Homo sapiens: one gene and its partners. The protein of the gene in region 5 purifies or fractionates together with the protein of the main gene of each other region. This does not show direct contact. Each region holds a gene or a part of one and is shown on either strand. Other genes may lie near its edges.

Region 1 (3,500 bases), on a different chromosome or scaffold from region 5:
TTCCCCATCATGGGCAAGGAAGGGAATTCCCACAGCCCTCCAGTGTACTGAGGGTACTGGCCTAGCCATGTGGAATTCCCTACCCTGACTCCTTCCCCAAACCCAGGGAAAAGAGCTCTCAATTTTTTATTTTTAATTTTTGTTTGAAATAAAGTCCTTAGTTAGCCACTTGTGTCATTTCCAGGTTTTCTGGGGGAGTGCAGGGGGAGATGGGTGATGAGGTATGAACGGATGCCTCAGTGTCCAAGATACAAAAGGCACTACATAGAAGTTTGCTTTTTCCCTGCCTGTCTTGGTCACTACCACCTCTTCCCTGAGAAGGGCGGGCCTTCCATGTTCTCTCACCCGCTTCAACTCCACATTGTCCAAGTCACAGAAAAAGAGAGGCCTGAATGGAGATTCGACCACAAACAGTTTTAATGGTCTGGTTTTCTCCCTAGTTCCCCAACTGTTTGTTAGTATTATTATTACTACAAGAATAAAGGATTCCTGAGAGCCTGTCCCCTCCTCTCCTGTGGCCCCCTTGACAGGACTCATCCCTACCAACCCCCCACCCCCCCGCCCCGGATTTCTGGGGAAAAAAAGAAGTGAAAGGCACTGCAGGGGTAGGGGGCTTGAGTGCCAGTGAGTTGGGGTTGGGCGGGGGCGGGGGCGGGGGTGGGCACTAGGGCAGGGCCCGGCCTAGAGGAGGAAAGTTCCAGTCCATGCCTGAAGGAATTGTGGAGAGGTGTGTCCATCCATGACACCCCCATCAGTCCTTCCCTGAACCTGTCTAGCAGGCATACCTAAGTCCCATCCTCCCACCCCCAGGCCCACACTGGGGGTTCTGCAGCAGGAGCATAAAATTAATTAGTGTTGGGCTCAGAAAGGAGGAATGGAGGGTCCACTCTACTAGGACTCCAGGGCCAAACCCAAAGGGAGGTTGCAAATAACTAGAATAATCCTCAAATGCTCTTCTTCTTCAGGTTGGAGAGACAGGAATTAACAAAATATTAATGTTAATGAAAACTCCCCAGCCGAGGGATCAGGCAGCAGTAGGGAAAACCAGGCTCCAAGAGGAAGGGGCTGGTCAGTCCCAGGCCTTGGAGACTAGTTGTCCCCAACAGCCCCCTGCCGAGCCCTGATGAACGCCATGCCATGCGTGCGGAAGTGGGTCTTGAGGTTTAGAGGGCTGTCGCAGCTCTTGCCACAGACCTTACAGGTCAGTGGGCCTCCAGAAGCAGGCAGGGGTGAGTCTCCACCATCGGGGTCAGACCTTGATGGAGGGGCCTCTTCCTCCCCATCCCCCAGCCCCAGGGCACTGGCTTTACCCACACCCCGTCTCTTCTTGTGGCTGATGAAACGGTGTCGGCTCAGGGAGCCAGGGGAGGCAAAGCACAAGCCACAGTCGAGGCACTGCTGGGCACCATCCTCCACCCTCAACCCCATCATGAGGCTCTGTTCTGTGGAGCTGCTGCTCCGGTAGCGCAGAGGGCCATGGCCTCCAGATCCAGGTCCGCCCCTGGGGGACTTGGCTGGCGGTGTCGTGCTGTCAGGCTCCTCACTGCAAGAGTCAGAAGACTGGCGGCGTTTCCGACCTGGCCCCTGAAGAAAAGTGGAAGAAACTGGGCCTTACCACCACCCCTACTGTCCCTGGCACCCCCATGCTCGCTTCCTGAGGCCATGGTCTCTGCCTTCCAGTTTCCCACTCAAAGCCCTAGCACAGCAGGCCGGGCCTCTGCCTACCTGGGCTCTGGCACTGGAACCCCGAGCCAAGGTGGTCCCCCGGCCAGGGGACTGGGCCCCAAGCTGCAAGCCGTGCCGGACCTGGACATGTTTCTCTAGGATCAGGCGGCTGCTGAAGGTGCGTTTTCCCTCTGTGCAATACCTGAAATGGGAGAGGACAGGATGGCAGCAGCGGCACAGCCCGAAGGCCAGGGCCCTTGCTTCTGAGGAGGGGGCTGCCAGAGCAGAGGGAGACCCCAACCATCAGGCCACTTAGACACGTCGCAGGTGCACAGGTACTTTGGCATACAGGGAGAGTCACGTGCTGGGCAGGAAGAGGAAGCGGGGAGCAAGACTTACCTGCAGGGGTAAACTCGCTTGATGCCCTCGTGATTAACTCTGACATGGCGCCTCAGGCTGGGGGCGGAGCAGAAGGAGCGCTCACACAGGCGACAGGGGAACTTTTTCACTGACTAGGAGAGCAGGGGTAGATGTCAGAGCCAGGCTCCAGGACCCCGTCCCCACTGTCACACTGGCAGTCCCAATGCTGCCCCCAGCCCATGGTACTCCCCTTGGGGCCCACTCACCTTGCCATGCTCCTTCTTCATGTGGGCCACGTATTCATCACGCTCAGGGAACCAGGAGTGACACAGGCCACAGGTCCAGCCTCCAGGCCCCCCACCCCCACCCTTGAGGCCTTTGCTCCCTAGTTCCCGCCGAGGCCGTTTGGCTGGACGGGGGGGCTCAGGGGAGCTGGGTACTTCCTCCTCTTCTGAAGATGAAGACGACTCCTCAGTAGCAGGGGCTGCCCCTCCCTGAGAAACAGCCAGCTCCTCAGGCTCAGTCTTGGGGGTCAGCAGGGCACCCCCGGCCCCTTTCCCAGCAGTCTCCTCCAAGCGCCCAGACTGATGGGTGTTCTGTGAGAGGAGACAAGGGAGGTTGCTGTTGTGGGGGAGGGCCTGGCTATGCCAAAGCCCCCCACTTCTGAAGTATGTGGCCCCAGCCCCAGGTCAGTACAGCTAAGCACCCATTCCCCATCCCTCTGCTCCTGTACCTTGAGATGTTCCAGCATGGTCCTTTTTTGGGCAAAGAGCAGAGGACAAGACGGGCACTTAAAGACACTGACACGCTGGGGCAGCAAGTGCTGGTCGAAGTGTGAGGAGAGGAGGGGTTTGTGAGTGAAGACTGTGTCGCACATGGCGCACTTGTAGATCAGCCTGAAGTGAGGACAGTGCAGACATCAGGCAGGGTTGGGTGCAGCCCCTCCCCTCCTGCGCCCCACCAGCCCTCCCTGGCCCAGCCCGGCCCTCCCCCGGGCCTCACTTGGCCTGCTGAGTTTGGAAGCTGGGATGCTGGGAGTAGAGGTGGGCATGGGCACTTGGCCCAGACTTGAAGGCCATGGGGCAGATGGGGCACTTGTGGAAAACCTCGCAGTGCGACGTCTGGATGTGGGACTTGATGGAGTTCACACCCCCAAACACCACTGAACAGCTGGGGCACCTAGGGAGGAAGCAGGAGGCCCTGTGGTGAGGTGGGAGGCATCTCCATGCCCACCCCGGGACCATACATTTATTCTCTGGGACTGGGTAGACTACAAGAAGGAAATCAGTAGTGGAGCATGAGCAGGGTGGAGAAAGGAGAGAGGTGCAGAGGCTGTGCCCCAAGGGAGGCTGCCAAGGGAGAGCTGGAGCTCCAGAGGTGGCCCTGCTTCCCCCCATCTCCATGGGGGACGACGGGAAGGCAGGACGTACTATCTCAGGGTTGAGTCTGGCAAAACAACAGGGCTGAGGGATATA
Region 2 (3,122 bases), on a different chromosome or scaffold from region 5:
ACTCACCACCTTATACAGCTCCAGGCCCAACAGGCCTGCCACAGCTGCTGTAGTGGTGGCAATGGCTGGGATAATCTGGCCCACAATTCGCTTGCTCTGCCAAGGACAAGAGATTTGGTCTGGGCCCAAGGCGTAGGGCCAGGGTTTGCCCTCCACCTCCAGGCCCAAGCCTCAAGGGGTGGGGTTACCTGGGCACGGTTGACCGGTGGAATCCCGTAGTTCTGACATCTCAGGCTAGCTGCCGCTACCACAAAGTCCACATGGAAGTTGCTGTCATCATCCTGTAAGGCCCAAGTCAAAGTAGTGTTAACACTGCAGCTGTGCCCCTCACCGTGGCCCACTGCGTGTCACTGCACAAGTCTCCACACAGTTCTGTCGGGGGGTTGCCCCACATCTCCTCTTGATCAGACAGGCTGAGGTTCAGGGAATGTGAGCTGCTTCCAGGGTCTTGCTGGGAGAATTCAGGCCAAGGGGCTCCAAAACTACCTTATTAGCTCCTGACCTTTCTCCACAAACTCCCCAGCCCCACTCCTCACTGCCACTTGGGCACCCACCTTCTCAAACATCAGAGGCTTCAGGGGAGGGCCCACACTCCAGACTTCCAGGGCTTTGTTCAGTTCCTTCTGCTGCTCAGGGCCTGTCAGGGGAGGGGATGTTGAGGCAGTCCTTAGCCCCTGTCTCCTGCACTCTTCTTGGAGCCCTGTGCCTATTCTTGGTCTTTGCCAAGCCTGTCACTTACTATTCCCTGATCAAATCAAGAAGCCCCCTTAATTAATGCTACAATCTCCCCTCTAGAAGCCCCAGTCTTCACCCATGTGTGCTCATGACCTCTGTGACCCTGTCCTCACCTGCAGGCCATAGCTAGACACTCCCCAGGAACCAATGGACTTTATTTATTTACTTATTTATTTTGCCAAGAATCTGCCACAAGAACTGGGATGTGGGGTAGGCAGCAGGGAGAAGACCTACTGAGGGACCAGAGGATAAGCCTGAAACTATGGAGGAGTGAGGTTAGGAGGCCTGAGAGGTAGCAAATTGGCTGTAGATCCCCTAGGCCCTATCTTCCTTCTGCAGCACAGGCTGAGGACAGGACAGGTTCAGGCCTTTGAAAGACAGCATGAGGGGCCAGGGCCAGGAGCCTCACCAAACTCAGCAGAAGCCGAAGCCAGCTCTAGATTACTAGCAAAGATGGGGGCCATCTGTTGGGGGTCAGGCTGTGGCAGCAGCTTCAGCAGCTCCCTGAGTGCAGTCCAGTCCTGTGAGCCAGGCAGCCCATGCATCTGGGCATACAGGTTGGCAGCTGCCAGTACGTAGAGGAGGTGTGTGTCCTGCAGCCAGACCAAGAGCAGGAACAGAGGCATGGGTGCATGGGGTGGGGGTCACTGTCCATTTGTGGATCTGTTTGAGTGCCTGCCTTTGCCTCACATGTAGACACCCATATATGCACAAGCATGGCTCTCTCTGGGCATCTGTGCATCTCTGCAGAATGCAGAAATGCCTACCTCTGCTCTGAGGGGCCACATCTCTATCTTGGAGCTCCCTACAGAATCCCACTCACTTGGTTGGTGTCAAACTCCAAGGGCTGGGGACACTGTTTGGGACCTGACCAGAAGGGAGTTCCATCCTCAAGCACCTAGGTAGGTAAGTAGAAGCTGCTGGGCTCAGTCTGGTCCCCCTGAGCCCCCAGCGTCCCAACCCCTAGCCACACACTTTATTAGGTGGGAAGTGCCTCAGCAGCTGTTTGATGCCATAATGAAAGCAGAGTTTCCAGTGGCCAAGAGCCCACGCCACACAGTCTTGCCAGTTCTGTGGACGCACTCTCAGGACCCCAAGCACTGGCTTCAGTAAGGTGAGTGTCTGTGGCTCATCCATGTCTGCCAGGGAAGTGTGTGCCCTGCAGAGAGAGGAGGAAGTGTGAGACTGAGTCCTGCAGACTCATGCTTGGAGCCCTGGACTCCCATCTGCCTCTGTTGGTGGCCTTACTGTTGGTGGTGGTTGATGGTCTCTGCAGACAGTCGGAAGAGTTCTTCAAACTCATGCCGGGCCCACTGTGGAGGAGGGAGGAAGAATGAGGTATCAGGTGGAGAACAGGTCTGCAGCTGAGGGCTGAGCTGGGTGGGGTGGGAGTCTCCAGGGTGCTTCCTACCTGCAGGGTGTGCTCGGCTGTGCTAGGGAAGTACCGCACGGTACAGACAGGGTAGGGGGCATCCTCAGAAGCTGCAGCTGAGGCAGGGGCTCTGTAGGCCTCAGTCACATGTGGCATGAATACTGTAGCACTGCCCCAGGTGCCCGATGTGCCTGCCTCCAGCAGTGGCTTCAGATAGTGGGTGCAACGAGCAGCCACATAGCGCCCTGGCAAGGGAGCAGTGGGTCAGAAGTGGGACTGGCACAGCTGTGGGCAAGGGACTGACCTCCGAAGTCAAGCACTCACGGGCCTGGAAACTGTCCAGGGCAGCAGCCACACCATCCACACGGGAGAAAAAGTTATCCCCATAGATGTGCTCTGTGGTGGGATCCAGTGGGTAGGTGAGCGGGATCACCTGTAAGTCTGGGTTCAGGCCCCGGGCAGCTGCTGCAGCCACCTCTGCCTTGGGTCTCTGGGAAGAAGGCAGGAAGATGTTGGGTGGGAAGCTGTATGGGAGGACGGTCTGGGATGCAGGAGTGTGGAGAGGGGTCAGCACTCACACCAACGTCCTGGGACCTGAAGAGGAACTGACGGCTGAGATTGGAGCGCTCTATGTGGTCCATGTCAACAACAGTCAAGCCCCCGCTGTTCCCGGCCCCCAGTCCCACTAGGGCAAAGACTTTGAGCAGCTCACAACCAATGGCACCAGCGCCCACCTGTTGGCAGGAACAGCCTTAGCCAGAGGGGCTGGGCTGGCTCTCCCAAAGGCACCCCCAGTCTCACCCCACAGCTCACCAGGAGGTAGTGCTGGCGTCTCAGTTTCTCCTGAAAACCAGCCCCAAACACTGCAATTTGCCCATCATAGCGGCTGCCTCTCTAGGGGACAGAGACGGGGTCAGTGATGGCTACTGGCCTGCATCTCCTTCTTATACTGAGTTTTCTGAATCAGGACCTGGAGGGCATTCCTCATGCTTCTCCCCTAGTCCTGATTTTGGAC
Region 3 (4,057 bases), on a different chromosome or scaffold from region 5:
ATCCAACTTGTTTTAATAAATGTAGGCACAGATTTCTTACTTCACCTTTTCCAAACTTCTGTCCTTCTTCCATTTCCCTGCAAATCCACTCATGTCATTGCAAAAACAAATGCTAGTTGACTGCATTATGCACAACTACAATTGTGGAGCTGGACAGAAATTTTGTACCAATGCTAATCATGGTGGAGTGAAAAAACTCAAGTGCCTGGGATTTGTGGGGCCTAGAAAACTATCCAGTACATTTAATATAATCGGGACCAGTGACAAATATATCTGATGGACTGCTACACAGAGATGGGCCAGAGATGTCCCTGGAGAAACATTTCCATGAAGTCTTCTTCCACTATTAGAAACATGTCTTATGACTTTGGATTTTAAAAAATCTATTATTCTCTGGATAAGTTAAATAGAAGACTCGCAACTAGTCTACAGAAAGGGTGCCTAATTTGCATTTAAAAAGAACAGTTTGCTTCTTATACACGGGGTGACTTAAAAGGAACTTCAATGAGCTAGTAAAGAAATTCTGAATACTTTCTAAATTAATTTATTCAATTCACAGCACAACCCACTAAAATTATTTAAAGCACTTAATTGGAAAATGATTTAATATATTGAAGTAATTCCTGATTTTCCAAAGCATTTAACTTTTAAATTAAATCTGACCCTACTTATCACAAGAACGAGGAGTGAAATGTGTATCCAAGTCATTAACTTCTTTTTGGGGCCTAAAATCACTGATAAACTTAATAAGATTTGTCCAGTCTCATTGCCAAAATAGTTCTGAGCTTTTGGTTCCGGTAACTACAGTGGAATAAGTCTTTACTCTCCAAGATAGGGCTGCAACTTTATTATTTTTTATTAGCAATAGTATTGGTGTCATAAGCAAAATAAAACGTAACACAATACTTGAGTGTACAGACAAAACAGATTTTAGACTAAAAGAACTATGTCACCAGCAAATAATGAAACTTCATCACACAAACTCCTATGCGCTTGCCAAAGTTCCCCGTACCTTTCAACTTGCCCGTAGCTGAAGGGCTCCCTGTACAATGGAAGCCCTTCTGCCTTGCTCAAGACTGGATGTCCCTCTTTTCTAACTTGCCTAAACACCATCGGCACACAGCACAGTCCTTTGAGTGGGTCTCACACTGGACACAGCATCGAGGAGCTTCTCCACGGGGAAGTGTGTGTGTGAGAGCCTGCCTGTGTGTCAACACTGTCCAAGACTCGGAGCTGCGACTCGGTCGCGTGGTGCGGAGTCCAGGGCTGAGAAGGCAGCGCACTAAATATCTCTGTATCAGGTAAAAAAGCCGTTTGGTGATGACTCGCCACCAGGCAAATGTTGGGAGTCCCAACGATTTTTCCCGTGGAATGCACCGAGGGTCGCCATGGATGTGCCTGCAGGGGCTGTGAGTATCAGGCAGATTTATCACCAAGCGAGAGTTGGGCGTCTAAAAGGCCCGCCCAGCGTTTTAGAGAACTCAATTCTCTCTGCCAACGTTCATCCAACGGGACTGCTTAGACACGTCCAACTAGCCCTAGGCGTGGGCAGTCGTGCCCCTGCGACCACTCTGGGGGACCGGTCCCTGCGTGTCCTCCCTCTCTGGGATGAGAGAGTTCGAGAAGCCGGGAGAGTAACCCCCTCCCTCGTACCCCCTGACTGTCCTATAGGTGGACCCAGCCGAACTCCGCAGCAGCCCAGGCCAGCGCCCCACCTCCGGGTCACCGGCATGATCCGCCTCTCCCCGGGCCCCCGCGGCCCTGGCACCCGAGGTCAGCGGGCCGTGGGTACAGCTCAGCCGCGGACCCTGCTCCGCGAGTGCGGGAGCTTTGGACTTGAACGCGACGTGCTCGCCCGGCTCCCAACAAACTTGCAATTTCCGCGCGCACCCCTTAAACAGGAACTGTTCCCCAAACCTTGACCCAGCTACCCCGCTGTGCTCTGGCCCGCGGACCTGTGTCCGAACCCGGGCTCGGCTGCCGGAACCGGTTTGAGAAAACAAAAGAGTTGTGGGGCAGTTTTCCCTGTGGGGGGCAGGGGCGCCTCCCAGGTCCCTGCACCCCGACTCCCGGCTGCTCCCCTGGCAACTAATCCGGAGAAGGGAAGTGGTGCCACGAGCCCCCACTGCCCGGGGAGGGAGGGAGAGAGAAGGGGGAACTGGGAAATAAACTGAATTCTCTTACTCTGCCTCCGTTCCTGGACCCCAGACACACCCCCAAAGTATTCCACGGTTTTCTCTTATTATTTTTTTAAACGCCCCCCGGCAAACCTAGGCAGGGATCCTTAGCCGCGAACAGCAGGAAGGAAAGAATCCGAGCAAATCGTGTCACTTTCCGCACAATCGCGGTGTTTGGCAAGCCCCCGGAGCTACTCCACAATATTTACTACCCAAGCGCACGCAGGCTGCAGCGGGCTGCGAGCCGAGCGCGCCCGGGACCGGCCTCCGCCAAGCCGGCCCCGCCGCGGCCCGGCCACCGCCGCTCCCCTCCCAGGATCAAGCAGCAAGAACACGGTGGAAACAAAAGCAGAGCGTTCACCTTGTTGCAATAGTAGGGGTCCAGGCAGGGAGAAGGTCCCAGACAGGGAGCGTCGGGCGCAGCGGCGGGCTGGGCTGGAGGTGGATAAAATCTTACGTCCATTTCACTCTCACATCAAGCAACTCCTTTTCTTTTTCCTTTTTTAAAAAAAAGTGTTCAGCAAAACAAGCTTAGACGGAACAGAGTGAGGTGTCTGGGCTCAGGAGTAAAAGAAACACCTTCCTTCCCTCACATCCGTTTGTGGTTTGTTTAAGAAGAAGAGGAAAAAAAAAAAAAAGAGGGGGGAAAAGCGCTCAACTCTCCCCCAAGCCGCGGCGCGCACCCGTCGGCGCCGAGCGCGCAGCCTGCTCCACCGCCGCCTCTTGGTCCCGCCGCCGCCGCTGCCGCCGCCGCCGGGCAGGTAACTTCATGCGCTCATTGTCCCCCCCGCCCGCCCCCCCATCCCCGCCTCCCGCGCCCCTCGCAGCCCGGCACACGCGCTCGGGCTCTAGGTACTGGGCGTTTTATTGGAGATTCTGAGTTGTTCTGCTTGTAGTTTATTTTCTCCACCTTGGAGGCCCGGGATGTGGGGGGTGGGGGGGTGGGGCGGGGATCCAGAAGGGACAGGGCGGGAGGGGGGCGAGCGTCCCGGGCCGGGCGGGGTAGGGAGCGCGGCCGGACGCGGGCTCGTCAAGGCCCAATGGCTGCTGTTCGGAACCAGAGGCCGGGGACCGGAGAAAGGAGGAGCGGAGAAGGAGAAGGAGGAGAGCACGGCCTGGCTGGGACAGAAGCGGTGGGACCCTGGGAGGCCTCCGCTGTGCCCGTGCCGCGCTCCTCGGGACCAGCGCGTCGCACACAAAGGGGCTGCCGAGCCAGAGCCACCAGCGGCCTCAGGGCACCGTGGGGAGCGCGCAGCTAGGGGGCGCTGTGGCGCACCCCGCCCCGCAGCCCCGCCCCCGGCCCTCCCCGGCCCCACCCCACTCCCACCGCCCTCTCCGCGGCCGTCCCCACCCCTATCTCCGCGACCCCCACTCCTCCTCGGCTGTTCCCCAACCCTGTCACTGTGCTCCCCTCCCTACTCCCGGCCCGTAGTGGAGGTGACTTTCCTGCGCAGCGCCGCTTCTGAGGGCGGAGAACCCACAGGGAGTGCGACCCCTTTGCACGCTGTGAGTGGGCAACTGTCCGAGGGACTCGAGCCGATCGAAGGGTGAGGACCAGCTCGCCTGGGGGTGGACGGCCTGGAAAAGCCGCCCCTCTTTGGCTTCCCTCTGCCGCCTGCAGCCCGCACCCCTCCGAGATTCGTGCCCCACTGGACGGTTTGCGAAGGCTGAGGCTGCCTTGGGGACTCACAAAAGACCACAGGGGTGATTCGAAGTGTAAATAGGGAAACAATCATCAGCACACAATCCGGCTAAAGGGATAACATATGAGTTTGCTTGTTGTCCTTCATGGGATTCTTCTCTTTTTATAGCTGGACGCCCTATAGGGCTCTTGGCAGTCCACGAAAGACCTGGAGTCCGCCTCCCCATTTCTCCGGTCG
Region 4 (3,500 bases), on a different chromosome or scaffold from region 5:
ACAATTTTATTTAAAAAAAATATATAAACCATGTTCTTTAAAGATGGAAAATACAAAAATAGAATTGAAAAATAGAAAATCAGTGATGTATACTTTTGTTCAGGATTTTTGTAACACAAGTTACTTTGAATATAATTGTAACAGCATAATTTTTATTTACTTATTTTATTAAGAGTGTCACATGTTAATTATGGGGTTACCAGAAACATCATTTAATGGCCATGTATTATAACATTAATTAATTAGCCAGGACCCTTTTCCCATTGTCAGGCAATCATCGTATTAAATTTAAAAAGAGGTTGCAAGAAAGACTAGCACTGTTTTGATAGGAAGGTTAAATGCAAACTCAGTTGAATAGTAGACATTTTGAATCTACTTCTAAAGTTTAATAATACCCAAGCGCAGGCCAGGTGCGGTGGCTCACGCCTGTAATCCCAGCACTTTGGGAGGCTGACGCAGGCGGATCACGAGATCAGGAGATCGAGACCATCCTGGCTAATATGGTGAAACCCTGTTTCTACTAAAAAATCCAAAAAAAATTAGCCGGGCGTGGTGGCAGTCGCCTGTAGTCCCAGCTACTCAGGAGGCTGAGGCAGGAGAATGGCGTGAACCCAGGAGGTGGAGCTTGCAGTGAGCCGAGATCGTGCCACTGCACTCCAACCTGGGCGACAGAGCAAAGACTCCATCTCAAAAAAATAATAATAATAAATAATAATAATAATACCCAAGTGCAGGTTTTCCAACCTTGTTTCCCCCCAAAAAAAAAATTTAAATTTGGAAAACGTACGTTCTATAAAAAAATTAAATTATATCACACCAATTACTTAAATTCCCCTCACTCTGGGCCAAGTTTTTAAATACTATTTATAGATGAAAATCTAGACTACTGATGTAAAACATGCATACATAAATATTACTAGACAGAACTTGATAGTATATACCATTGGGAGTTAGTACAGCACAGTAGTCAAGAGGCTAGGCTAAAGTGAGACTACCTGGGTTGGAATTCTGGTTCTACAATTTACTAGCTTGTGACTCTGGGTGAGTTATGCCTTCAATTGCTCATCTCTAAAGTAGGATAATAATAACCATCTCAAAGGGTAGTCAGGAGAATTCGCTGAGTTCTTATTTTGTTTGTTTGTTTGTTTGTTGTTGTTTTTTTGAGACAGAGTCTCACTCTGTCACCCAGGCTGGAGTTCAGTAGAGTGATCTTGGCTCACCACAACCTCTGTCTCCCAGATTCAAGGGATTCTCCTGCCTCAGCATCGCGAGTAGTTGGTATTACAGGTGTATGCCACCATGCCTGGCTTTTTTTTTTTTTTTTTTTTTTTTTTTTAGTAGAGATGGGGTTTCACCATGTTAGCCAGGCTGGTCTCAAACTCCTGACCTCAAGTGATATGCCCACCTCAGGAGTTCTTATTTGTAAAGTTCTTGGCACACAGTAAACACTCTACAGCTAGCATTTAGTTTTTAAAAATTTTTTAACTTTAGCTAACATTTACTGAGCACTTAGCATGTGCTAAATTAAATGCTTTACACGAATTTGCCTCAAATAATCTTCACAAAAACCTAGGATGAGGCACTATTATTGCTCCCGTTTAAAGATGAGAAAATTGAAGCAAAAAAGATTAAATTATTAGGCTAAGGCCATACAAGTAAATGTCAGAGCAACAATATGAACTCCAATCTAGCAGCATGGCCTACAATTTCAACATAGGTTATAGGATATACTATATACTAGAAGCGGTAGCCTCCTGCAGCACTCTGTCTTGAAAAGAGGGCAGGAGAGTCACAAGAGACTTTGCTGAAATAAACTAGAATATTCCAAGAAATAGTTTATAAACTATACAGAGTAATTAAAAATTAATACAATAATTATATTAACAATTAAATTATATCAATAATAATTAATATAAGAAAGTCACTGTAATACAGAAATACTTATGTATGAAGTGATCTGATGTTTGATATTTGTTTTAAAATAATCCAGCTTGAGAGAGAAGAAGGGATAAAAGAAGCAAGATTAGATACTGGTTAAACTGTGGTGATGGGTATATGGGGCTTATTTTATTCTCTCTACTTTTATGTATTCTTTAAAATGTCAATAATAAAAAAGAAATAGCAATGAGGTGGCACAGATTAGACACTTCATTACAGAAGCAAACAACTTTTTTAAGACACCCTGTCTCAAAACATTTTAAAGGGCATGACAGAATTGATACTTATACATGTTATATTTTATATATAATTTCTAAAAGGGTAGCCTTACTTTAAATGAGAATCCCCTTAACTAAAATGAAAAATTAACGAAAGTATTTAGGCATAAACATGTAAATAAACATGCTAAATGGTTGTCTGTATTTCCATCAGCTCACTAAAAATATTTGCTTAAATAATTAACACTCATTTTTTTCTTCATGTCTTTCTCCTCCCTGATCATCTCTATGATTATGACACTCTATGGTTTGTTGTCCAGGAAATGAGATGGGTTTGTACAGACAAATATGTCTCTACAACATGGTCACAAATTGAATATGAATAAAAACCAGAAATCTGCTTCACTAAGAAACACTGCTAAAAATTTCTCACTTCAAATTGTAGTTTTAAAAATATTTGATTTTCATACTAATGTATATCTATGGGCTTCTTACACGTACAAAACAAATTTAACCAATTATTTATTTGAGAACATTTTATATGCTCTAAATTATACTGTTAAAAAAATTTAGCTGATACTAAAGGAAAAAACTAACATTTATTAAGCTAGACGCTATGCTAGGCAATTTAATACACATTAGCTCACTAAATTTAAGAGACAGCTACATTTTAACAGGAAGAATATTAAAGTTTAGAGAGGTAAAATCACTTGCCCGAAGTCACAGAACTAATAAGGAGCTAAGTTGGTATTCAAATTTAAGCTCAACTACAAAACCCACTTGCCCCCCACTATCCCGGACTACCTCCAAGGGAGGCAAAAATCTTCTCAAGTCAAACTTAAATATTTAGGGCCTTTTTAAAGTAGACCATAAAATGTTTGTTACTGGTTACATGTGTATTTCACGGTGGCCGCTTTGCATAAAGAGCACTAACTGAAACGCAGAAAGTATTATTTCTTCTACTGTGGGACTTTTTTTTTTTTTTGGTTTCTTAATTTCAGCCTTAGTTTCTCTTCTCTACAATGGGGAAATTAGTACCTTTGCTGTCCAATTCCAAAATTATAAAGATTTAAAGATGATATATGTGAAATCACTTCAAAATCTACAAAAACACAAGACTATTTTATGTCTTAAAATGTTAAAACACACACACACACAAAGCCAAAAGTTTTCTAAAGTAAGTGTAAGCTGTTTAAACTAATCTACAGACTCTATTAACATTTCCAGAACTTTCTAAACCCCTTTCTTCTAAGCATAGCTCAATCATCATCGCTATTACTTGGCTTTCCTTACCCTTAAGTATAATGCAATAACAATGGCATCAATGCTTTTGCAATAAATAAT
Region 5 (3,500 bases):
CTGCACTCCAGCCTGGGCAACAGAGCGAGACTCCATTTCAAAAAAAAAAAAAAAACATTCACAGAGTCCCCAAGAGTGCTTTCCTATAGCCCCTCCCTCCTCTCTCCCCCATGCAATTTTGCGCTCATTTTGACAGAGGATGGAACCACACTTCAAAGATGCCAAAGACTTGACAAGGTTACCTGACTGCTAAGTGACTGAGCCAAACTGAAACCAGGTGGCTCTCCTGACTCCTAAACCAGTGCTCCTCCCCGCGTCCTAACTCCCCGAGTCACTCTGGAATCCAAGCCTTCCCTTACCCCTACCACCACCCTCCACCTTACCTTTTACTGGCTCCATCCCTGAAACGCTCCCACAGGCCCTGGCAAGGTGGCCTCCCTCAATACCCCTTCCTACTACACAGACCAAAAAAAAGAATTAACAATACAGGGGGAAAAAAAGAAAGAGAACCAAAGATCCCACTCCATCTCATTAAGAAAGTAAACATAAGAGCCATCTAAGTGTCTAATTAAGCTTCTAATTAGTCCCTGCTTGTTACTAATGCAAATTAGATTACTCCGCTTAACTACAGCATGTCCACAACACCCTTGTTAATTGCGGCCTTTTGAAATTAAATTACTCCCTAATTAGCATATCAAAGCCATTGATTCGGAGCTGGGAAAGATGAGGGCAAGAGGAGCCGAATGCCAAGTTTGGTTAATCAGAGACGGCTAATTAAATAGTGACGTCTTATGTGGGGGGCCTGCTGGTTAAGGGGTAGGGGCAATTCGCCCAGGGCCTGAATGGCCATCTGGAGCCTGGTTCTGGTGGTGCCTTTGGCACCAGGGTTTCCTTTGGGCACAGGAGGGGCTCTAGAGGGCCTGGGACAAACCACTGAGTATGGCCATTTCTGGGCCCCTGGCTGTTCTGCCCAGCCTGCCCCGACATGCCTTGGCCCCTCCCTTCATTTCCTCAGATGTAGGGGGCAAGTGATGACTTTATCATAGAGGGGCTCACCCTGGCAGGGATGCGCTGATTTCATCTTGAAACAGGCCCCCGGAGACACAAGGCCTTATGGTACAAAGACCTAACCTCTGTGGTAGAAAGAAGGCAAAAAGAATCACCCACAACCATCAGTTCTTTTTTTTTTTGAGACAGGGTCTCACTCTGTGTCGCTCAGACTGGAGTGCAGTAGCGCGATCTCGGCTCACTCACTGCAACCTTTCCTCCTTGGCTTAAGTGATCCTCTGGTCTCAGCCTCCCGAGTAGCTGGGACTACAGTCACATGCCACCACACCCTAATTTTTGTATTTTTTGTAGAGAGGGGGTTTCACCATATTGCCCAGGCTGGTCTCAAACTGAGCTCAACTGATCCTCCCACTTTGGCCTCCCAAGTGCTGGGATTACAGGCATGAGCCACTGCGCCCATCCCACCATCAGTTATTAAGTAGCTGTGTGGGAATTAGATTTGGGTCAGGGTGTCCTTATAGGTCCTCTCTCTGAGATCTTCTTGTACAGACCCTGCAGTCTTTTTTTTTTTTGGAGGCAGAGTCTCATTCTGTCGCCCAGGCTAGAGTGCAGTGGCACAATCTCGGCTCACTGCAACCTCCGCCTCCCGGGTTCAAGCAATTCTCCTGCCTCAGCCTCCTGAGTAGCTGGGACTACAGGTGCCTGCCACCACGCCCGGCTAACTTTTGTATTTTTAGTAGAGATGGGGTTTCGCCATGTTGGCCAGGATGGTCTTGAACCACTGACCTCAGGTGATTCACCTGCCTTGGCCTCCCAAAGTGCTGGGACTACAGGCATGAGCCACTGTGCCTGGCTAGACCCTGCAGAGTCCTTCAGACACTGTCCCACACTAGATTCTCCTTGAGGAATACTGGGGACAGGTGAATCTCCATGTCAAAGCTGCTAACCAAAATGCCTTCAGGGGCTAGGCTGGTCACTTAGGAGGCCAGGTGAGGAGGGCACGAGGAGGCAGCTGCCACTCAATCCCAGTCCATCCTTTCCACACAGAAATGCAGGCTCAGTGTTGACAGGGCTTGGGTTTTTCAAAAGGAGCAGAAGTGGGGATATTTATGTGAAATTTACCATTGTAATGAACTGTGTGTGGGTCAACAAAACTCAGCAGGGATGAAGTTAGTCCACTTGTGACCTCAGCCCTTATGGCCAGCATTTCAGAAAGGCAAGTTCCAGTTAACTGTGACTCGGGGCAAGTCAGGTAACCTCTCTGGGCCTGGGTACTTCACCTATCAAATGAGAGTGATAATTACCACTGCCTGGAGAATCTTTCAGGGTTGTTGTGGGGATAAGAACAAGGAGGTATGTGAAACGGCAAAGCACAGTTCCTCAGTCAGGGCCTGGTGACTACCTAGCTCTACCTGCCACAACAACCTCCCAGGTTTCCTAATAGGGATGTCCTATTAGAACTTCCTTCCCCCATCTTCCATGCAGGGGGCAGAGCAAGGGCTTCCAAGTGTCCTTGAAAATGCTGAGGGCTTGTTCCTGCAGATATCTGACCTGACTGTTGGGAGGCTTGGAGGTACCACACACCTATGCCCTCTGCCCTGTGTTTTAATGGATCAGTTCTGGCAGGGGCAGCAGCTTCTGAATGACAAAATCCTGAGGGTTAAAAGGTCCCTAGCTTGGTCCTTCTCTACCTCCTCTGTCCCCAACTAGGGTGCAGTCTGTTCCCAGCTCTTCCTCCCTCCCCTAGTCCTCCTAAGTTTCTCACCAGAAGCCCCTGGAGCACACAGGATCACGGCCAAATTCCCAAAGGGTGAGATTCTGTTTACTTAAGGAGAGATCAGACAGGGTCCAGGGGAGGGGAAGTCCTCCTGCCCCCACCTCTGAAAGGGCAAATCCCAGCCAGTACCCAGTCCATGGGTATCCATCCAAGCCAAACTGGGCAAAGGGGCACAGAGCAGTGGTTTTATTTTAGAAAATAAGTGCAATTAAAAGAAAGGCAGAAAAAAAGGAATGGGGGAGGAGAAGGCTGCCCTGGTGTGAGGGGGAGGGGGGATGGCGGCACACAAGGGCCAAGCTGAAGCTCGCCTCACCTCGCGGAGCTCTCTCTCCCAACGAGATTCAATTAATTGATAACATGAGGCATCAAATTAATTTCTGGAGAATGTGAGATTCTGATGAAGGGAAATCTCGTCGATGGGGATCGGGTGGGAGGGGGCAGGCAGCACCCCTTTTAATCAGGCTCCACTGCCTAATTGGGAAGGAGGAGACTTGCATGGGTCATAGTGTCCTCTGCCCCGAGCTCCACAGCACCCCTTTCAAGAAGGACCCATGGAAGTAGGCTCCCGATGCCCTTGGAACAAAGAGGGTGTACGTTGAGACCTTCAGGTCTCTTCTTGCCTGGCTCCCAACCCACAGCTTCAGGATGGTGAGCCCGAGGATGTGGGGCTGCAGGTGTCCTCTTCACCCACTGTACAGTTAGGAAAACTGAGGCCCAGAGAGAAGACGGGTCATGCCTAAGGCCGAAGAGTGAGTTAGGAAGTTGGCAGCAGTGG
Region 6 (2,611 bases), on a different chromosome or scaffold from region 5:
TTTCATAGTGGCATGATGAGACATTTTATACAAGTACCTCATGAAAGGACATCTAGGTAGTTCCCAGTTAGAATAAAAACTGCAGTGAGCAGCTTTACAGCTGAATTTCTCGCCATTTCTGACTTGTTTCCAAGATACAGAATTACTTCATCAAAAGGCACATTAACACATTTTTATTGTAGTGTTAATAAATACCATTAAAATGTATTAAAATATGTACATATGGTTTTATGTTAATTGAAAACATCTTTAAACATTAGGAACGTAGTGAGCTCTGGTTGGTGGTAGGTTTTTGTGGTGCTGCCAGCCCTCTGGGTTCTCAGTCCCCGCTGCCAGATTCGACCCACGCTCTGGACTCCATCCTGTCCTGCCCCGGGCTCTCTTTTTTCCTGTTGCTGGTTATGAGTGAAAGTCCCGGAGGGAGGGATCTAATGGTTTTACAGTTTGTTCCCTCTGGGGCACTGCTCCTGATGGAATGATGAGTGAGGGAGAGGCAGCGTGTGGCTCTGCTCAGCCTCCTGTTTCTGTCGTTATGGGTTCCAGGAGACAGGGCCAGAAGAGAACCAGACAGAGATGGAGTAAGTGCCAGAGCGTTGGCGTGCTGTAGTGCAGACACTCAGCCTCCCCGTTCTGTTTGTGTGACTGACAAAACCCACACCTGTGGGGCACAGCCTGTCATTTGACCACAAGCCCTGAGGCGGGGGGAGGCTGGGTGGGCCGCCTGCACTGACGGCGCCATCCGCCTCCTGCCTTGCAGTGACCTGACCAACGGTGCAGATGGGATGCTGGCCACAAGCTCCAATGGGTCTCAGTACAGCGGCTCCAGGGTGGAGACTCCGGTGTCCTACGTCGGGGAGGACGACGAGGAGGACGATGACTTCAACGAGAATGACGAGGACGACTGACGTCCTCCCCACTTCAGATTCGGCTTCAGGAAAACGTTTAGCGAAAAGAAACTTTTTTTTTAATGTGGGTTTTCTGTTTCCTTTTGGCCTACTCCCAAGAAGATATTGGTAAGCTATTGAATTTAGATATGCACCTCTGATAAGCAAGGATTGTTTCCCGTAGGATTAGGACGTGCTGTGGATGTGTGTTTTGATACCAGTGTGCTGATGCAGAGCGTTTATTTACTTGTTAGGATTTTGTGTTTTCATTTGCTATTTTTCTTTAAGTGCAGAGTTCATTTTTGCCCCTGAAAAGTTTTTGCTGAGTTTGCTGAAGAAATTGTATTTCAACCACATCCATGAAAATAAAACACCTCCTGTTGTGGATGGTGAGCCCCTGATGCCGCTTATTTGCCGTGAGTTTGGACGGCACCCCTGCTGGCGGATAGCAAGACTCTGTGGAGTTTGTTCAGTGGTACGGTGTCCAAGCAAACAGCAGAATGCAACTTTCTAAACAGCCCCAAGCAAACAGCAGAATTCAACTTTTTAAACAATAAACACCATCAACCTTATTGACTTTATTGTCCCTTAAATTATATTGACTGTTGTGATTCCATCAAGTTTGTACACTCTTTTCTCTCCCTGTTTTGCAGCAACAAATTGCGAAGTGCTTTTGTTTGTTTGTTTTCGTTTGGTTAAAGCTTATTGCCATGCTGGTGCGGCTATGGAGACTGTCTGGAAGGCTTGGAATGGTTTATTGCTTATGGTAAAATTTGCCTGATTTCTTACAGGCAGCGTTTGGAAACCTTTTATTATATAGTTGTTTACATACTTATAAGTCTATCATTTAAAGACATGTACTGAAACAAATGTATTTGTTTCATAAGCATCTTCCTGTAATCTATTATAAAATTGAAATTAAATATAGAGAATGTTTTAACAATTTTTTAACTCAAAATTTGTCAATCATTTTTAATAGTTCTTTTTTTATAAAAAGAAAAAGGAATTTAAGGACAGGCAGTAGTCTCTTTTAAAATTTATTCACAAAACCCATTAACTGCACAGTTGCTATTAGCTGCCTGTTCTAAAACGATAGTCTTTTTATTGAAACACAAATAAACTTTTCTGTAATATTTTATGGTATATAAAGAGACTTTAATTGTTTGACTTGTTTAACTTGGCACTGTTAGTTTTTATTAATAAAACGCGCATGGGCATTTTAAACAAGCTGTGTTTCTCTAATTCAGGATTATTATCTAGAAATTTGTCTGTCTTGTTGGTTTTACTTTATACTTGAGTGAGAAAGTAGGTTGTTAGGCCCAGACGCGGTGGGCCCGGGTGGTCCCTGTGGGTGCAAACCCCACCACCACATGTTGTCTGAGGCACATCCTCCGGGAGCCCACCCTGAAAAGGTGGAAGGTGGCCAAGGGTGGAGGTCTTGGTGGACACAGGGCAAAGAGGCACCTTCCTTTTCGGTGCCTGTGGTGCAGAGAAAGATAAGCCAAGTTCCTTGGCCTTTTTTCACAATGAAAATTGAGACAAAATTTAAAAGTTTGACTTTGAGAACAAGAATAAGATTGAGAGGATTCTGGGAAGATGGTGGAATAGGGAGCACCAGGAATCTGGCTGCCCAGGTAGATGTCTACCTCGCGGGCAGGATCTGCCTGATGCAGCTGTTCTGTAACTACGGAATCTACTGAAGGCTTAAAGCTTTCAAGGGAGGCTTG
Region 7 (2,508 bases), on a different chromosome or scaffold from region 5:
ATAAAACAGACCCTACTGCAAGGGTGGGCTTGCCTTCTGGGATAGAGAAACAGCAATGACCCCAACCCCTTGTGCATTAGTCCAGGTAGAAGCATGGGTCCAGAGAAAGGACCTTGGAAACTTCACTCAGACAGGACAGAAGTCCAGGGACAGAAAAAATGGAAACCAAGGTGCAGTTGTTGTTAGACCCGATAGCAAAGAATCACAGAAAGCCTGTCATTCTACCCTCCCCGACAGCCAAACACACCCAATGGTTTCCTACCTGTCCACCACCCAGAAAAAGCAGGCAAGCAAGTAAACTGTCTTAAATGAGGAAAGAGGGGAAACAGGCCAGAGGGTGACCTCTTATTTATGCAACAGCTACTGCCTATCAGGTAGGAGGACTGGCTGTTTCTACCCTTTCTGCACACAGGAACAGGAGAGGGAAGCTAGGCGCCAAGGAGAGGGCCGACCTGGCAGGTATGGTGGGTTATGGCAGGGCATGGAAGGGGAAGGCAGAGAAGGGGCAAAAGCACAGGGGAGGGGGCAGCCTCGTACCTCGCCCTTTCCTCTGGCGGACTGGGGCATAGTAGCGGATGCTCACCACCTTGGTGGTGCCCCGAGGGGTGGTACACTTGCGGGACTGCCGCACCACATTGGTGAAGGAGAGTTGCATGTGTTCCTCAGCTGTCTGCAGCCCAAAAAACTTAGTGTTGAAGAACATGAGGGTGTTGAGGAGGACAAAGGGCGAGTAGACCCCCAGTTGCTTACACTCCCAGAGGTGCTCCTCCTCCACTCGAGAGAACACCGTATCTACAATGGTCAAGGGGGAGAGGCCAGTCAGGAGGGAGTGGCTACCCAAACCCAACCACTTCCCATCCCATGTGCCCTGCTCATTTCCCACACAATTCTCATTTGGTGAGTAACCTTTGTATATAAAACACTGTCACTTCGCTACACTTGCTACACTACACAGTGGGACTGGGCTTTAAAAAATATATACTTTCCACACCTGCATTTGGAACGCCTCTCACCACCCTCAAGTTGTAGACAAGTAAATGTAAACCTTGAGGAGTCCCACGATTTCTTGCTTTCTTTCTTTACTTACCACCCAAACCCAGGCCATCTTTTTCTGGTCCTAGAGATAGCTCTTCAGACCTAAGTCTTGATCCCCATCTCACGTTCAAGAACAGGCGCTCCTGTGCTCCTTTAACTCTAAACCCTGAGGCATCCAGCTACACGCTCCTGCCCTCGGGCCCTTTGTGAAGAGTGGCAGACCAAACAGCACAGGACTCTCGGGATGGTGGATTGGAAGAATGGAGAAAGCGGGTAGGGGTTGCTACGTCCCTGTTCCTTACTGTTGGGGAGGAGTGTGGGCTGCCAGGTACTCAGAGACTTGTTGAGTTCTTGAACAAAAGTCAGGTAGTAAAGGTCCGTGAAAATGTTCACCATCCGGTTATTTTCCAGCAAGTACTGGGGAAAGAAAAACAGACACACCTAAGGCTAGACTGTAGGTCCTAGAAGAAAGATAATGATGCTGAAGCCCCCAGGTATGGTGTCCTTGATCATTAGGAGACGATGGGAAACAGTTGCTTGATTAGGTGGCCTCGAGTGCTTTCCCCCAGGTATACCCACAGCTCTGCGCTACTCAGGCTTTGCTCGAAGAGGAGGAGGCTTGGAGGAGATGTTCTTTAGAAGCCCACACCTCCTTCTCAGGTAATACATGGTTGACTTCTCCCAGGGGGAACTAAACATTACCCCAGCACTCAAGGATCCCAGCTCCACCCATCCCTCCCCTCCTAGAATGGGCTTAAAGATTACAAAGGGGACCTGGATAGCAATGAAGACTGCTCCTTGGCCAACGGTCCTGGAATGCAGTTTTGATTTTAGAAGAGTATTGATATCTCATGTTCTATTTGGAGTAGGAGATTAAAGGCAAGCTGCCTGCTTCAGGTAGGGGACAAGATGAGGAACAGGGAGTGCAACAGAATAACTGCTTTTTTTTTTCATTAAAAAAATATTTTTTGGGTAGATGGGTATCACTTTGTTGCCCAGGCTGGTCTCAAACTCCTGGCTTGAAGCGATCCTCCTGCCTCAGCCTCCCAAAGTGTTGGGATTACAGGCGTGAGCCACCGTGCCTAACCCAGAATCATTTCTGTTTAGACCCTGCCTGCTGTGTTAAGAGTGACAGGAAGTGAGGTGGTGCACAAGAGGTACCTGCTGGATGCCAAGACACAAATAGTAGATACTGTCAGGTTCATATCGTTCACCATTGGGCCGAGTGATTTCTCTCACAAACTGGGCCAGACCGTAGTTGAGCTCAGCAGCTGAGCAGGCGAGAATATCCTCTTTGATACGCATGGGTTTGGCTGCAGTGATATGTTGTGCAGGGACAGGATTAAGAAAAACTCTACATGGAGAATTTCACTTAGCTCCATCACCATTAACCCCTCCATCCCTTAGTCATGCCTAGCTCCTGAACAATTACAGAAAGAGCCCCTAACCTGGAACCTAGACAGCATTTCCCTT

Evidence for each region.
Region 1: the proteins of FOXP4 (region 5) and ZNF687 purify together in Homo sapiens (affinity purification with mass spectrometry, with the first as the bait; one study listed by BioGRID). This does not show direct contact.
Region 2: the proteins of FOXP4 (region 5) and UBA7 purify together in Homo sapiens (affinity purification with mass spectrometry; one large-scale study listed by BioGRID and IntAct). This does not show direct contact.
Region 3: the proteins of FOXP4 (region 5) and TOX purify together in Homo sapiens (affinity purification with mass spectrometry, with the first as the bait; one study listed by BioGRID). This does not show direct contact.
Region 4: the proteins of FOXP4 (region 5) and NFAT5 purify together in Homo sapiens (affinity purification with mass spectrometry, with the first as the bait; one study listed by BioGRID). This does not show direct contact.
Region 6: the proteins of FOXP4 (region 5) and TFDP1 purify together in Homo sapiens (affinity purification with mass spectrometry, with the first as the bait; one study listed by BioGRID). This does not show direct contact.
Region 7: the proteins of FOXP4 (region 5) and ZMYM3 purify together in Homo sapiens (affinity purification with mass spectrometry; one large-scale study listed by BioGRID and IntAct). This does not show direct contact.

What each region holds. Positions count from the first base shown.
Region 1 is NC_000001.11:151,288,799-151,292,298, reverse strand, and holds the end of ZNF687 (zinc finger protein 687), read right to left. Parts: intron 3,205-3,500; coding exon 3,028-3,204; intron 2,922-3,027; coding exon 2,759-2,921; intron 2,622-2,758; coding exon 2,292-2,621; intron 2,178-2,291; coding exon 2,065-2,177; intron 1,868-2,064; coding exon 1,726-1,867; intron 1,585-1,725; coding exon 1,090-1,584; 3' UTR 123-1,089; downstream 1-122. UniProt on the Homo sapiens protein: May be involved in transcriptional regulation.
Region 2 is NC_000003.12:49,807,832-49,810,953, forward strand, and holds part of UBA7 (ubiquitin-like modifier-activating enzyme 7), read right to left. Parts: intron 3,002-3,122; coding exon 2,921-3,001; intron 2,842-2,920; coding exon 2,686-2,841; intron 2,598-2,685; coding exon 2,432-2,597; intron 2,353-2,431; coding exon 2,147-2,352; intron 2,049-2,146; coding exon 1,984-2,048; intron 1,895-1,983; coding exon 1,711-1,894; intron 1,634-1,710; coding exon 1,559-1,633; intron 1,329-1,558; coding exon 1,145-1,328; intron 638-1,144; coding exon 555-637; intron 282-554; coding exon 189-281; intron 97-188; coding exon 1-96. UniProt on the Homo sapiens protein: E1-activating enzyme that catalyzes the covalent conjugation of the ubiquitin-like protein product of ISG15 to additional interferon stimulated proteins (ISGs) as well as other cellular proteins such as P53 in a process termed protein ISGylation.
Region 3 is NC_000008.11:59,116,348-59,120,404, forward strand, and holds the start of TOX (thymocyte selection-associated high mobility group box protein TOX), read right to left. Parts: upstream 2,801-4,057; 5' UTR 2,641-2,800; coding exon 2,539-2,640; intron 1-2,538. UniProt on the Homo sapiens protein: Transcriptional regulator with a major role in neural stem cell commitment and corticogenesis as well as in lymphoid cell development and lymphoid tissue organogenesis.
Region 4 is NC_000016.10:69,568,966-69,572,465, reverse strand, and holds part of NFAT5 (nuclear factor of activated T-cells 5), read right to left. Parts: intron 1-3,500. UniProt on the Homo sapiens protein: Transcription factor involved, among others, in the transcriptional regulation of osmoprotective and inflammatory genes. Binds the DNA consensus sequence 5'-[ACT][AG]TGGAAA[CAT]A[TA][ATC][CA][ATG][GT][GAC][CG][CT]-3'.
Region 5 is NC_000006.12:41,552,881-41,556,380, reverse strand, and holds part of FOXP4 (forkhead box protein P4), read right to left. Parts: intron 1-3,500. UniProt on the Homo sapiens protein: Transcriptional repressor that represses lung-specific expression.
Region 6 is NC_000013.11:113,639,363-113,641,973, forward strand, and holds the end of TFDP1 (transcription factor Dp-1), read left to right. Parts: intron 1-757; coding exon 758-905; 3' UTR 906-2,111; downstream 2,112-2,611. UniProt on the Homo sapiens protein: Can stimulate E2F-dependent transcription.
Region 7 is NC_000023.11:71,241,633-71,244,140, forward strand, and holds part of ZMYM3 (zinc finger MYM-type protein 3), read right to left. Parts: intron 2,349-2,508; coding exon 2,197-2,348; intron 1,453-2,196; coding exon 1,338-1,452; intron 793-1,337; coding exon 538-792; intron 1-537. UniProt on the Homo sapiens protein: Plays a role in the regulation of cell morphology and cytoskeletal organization.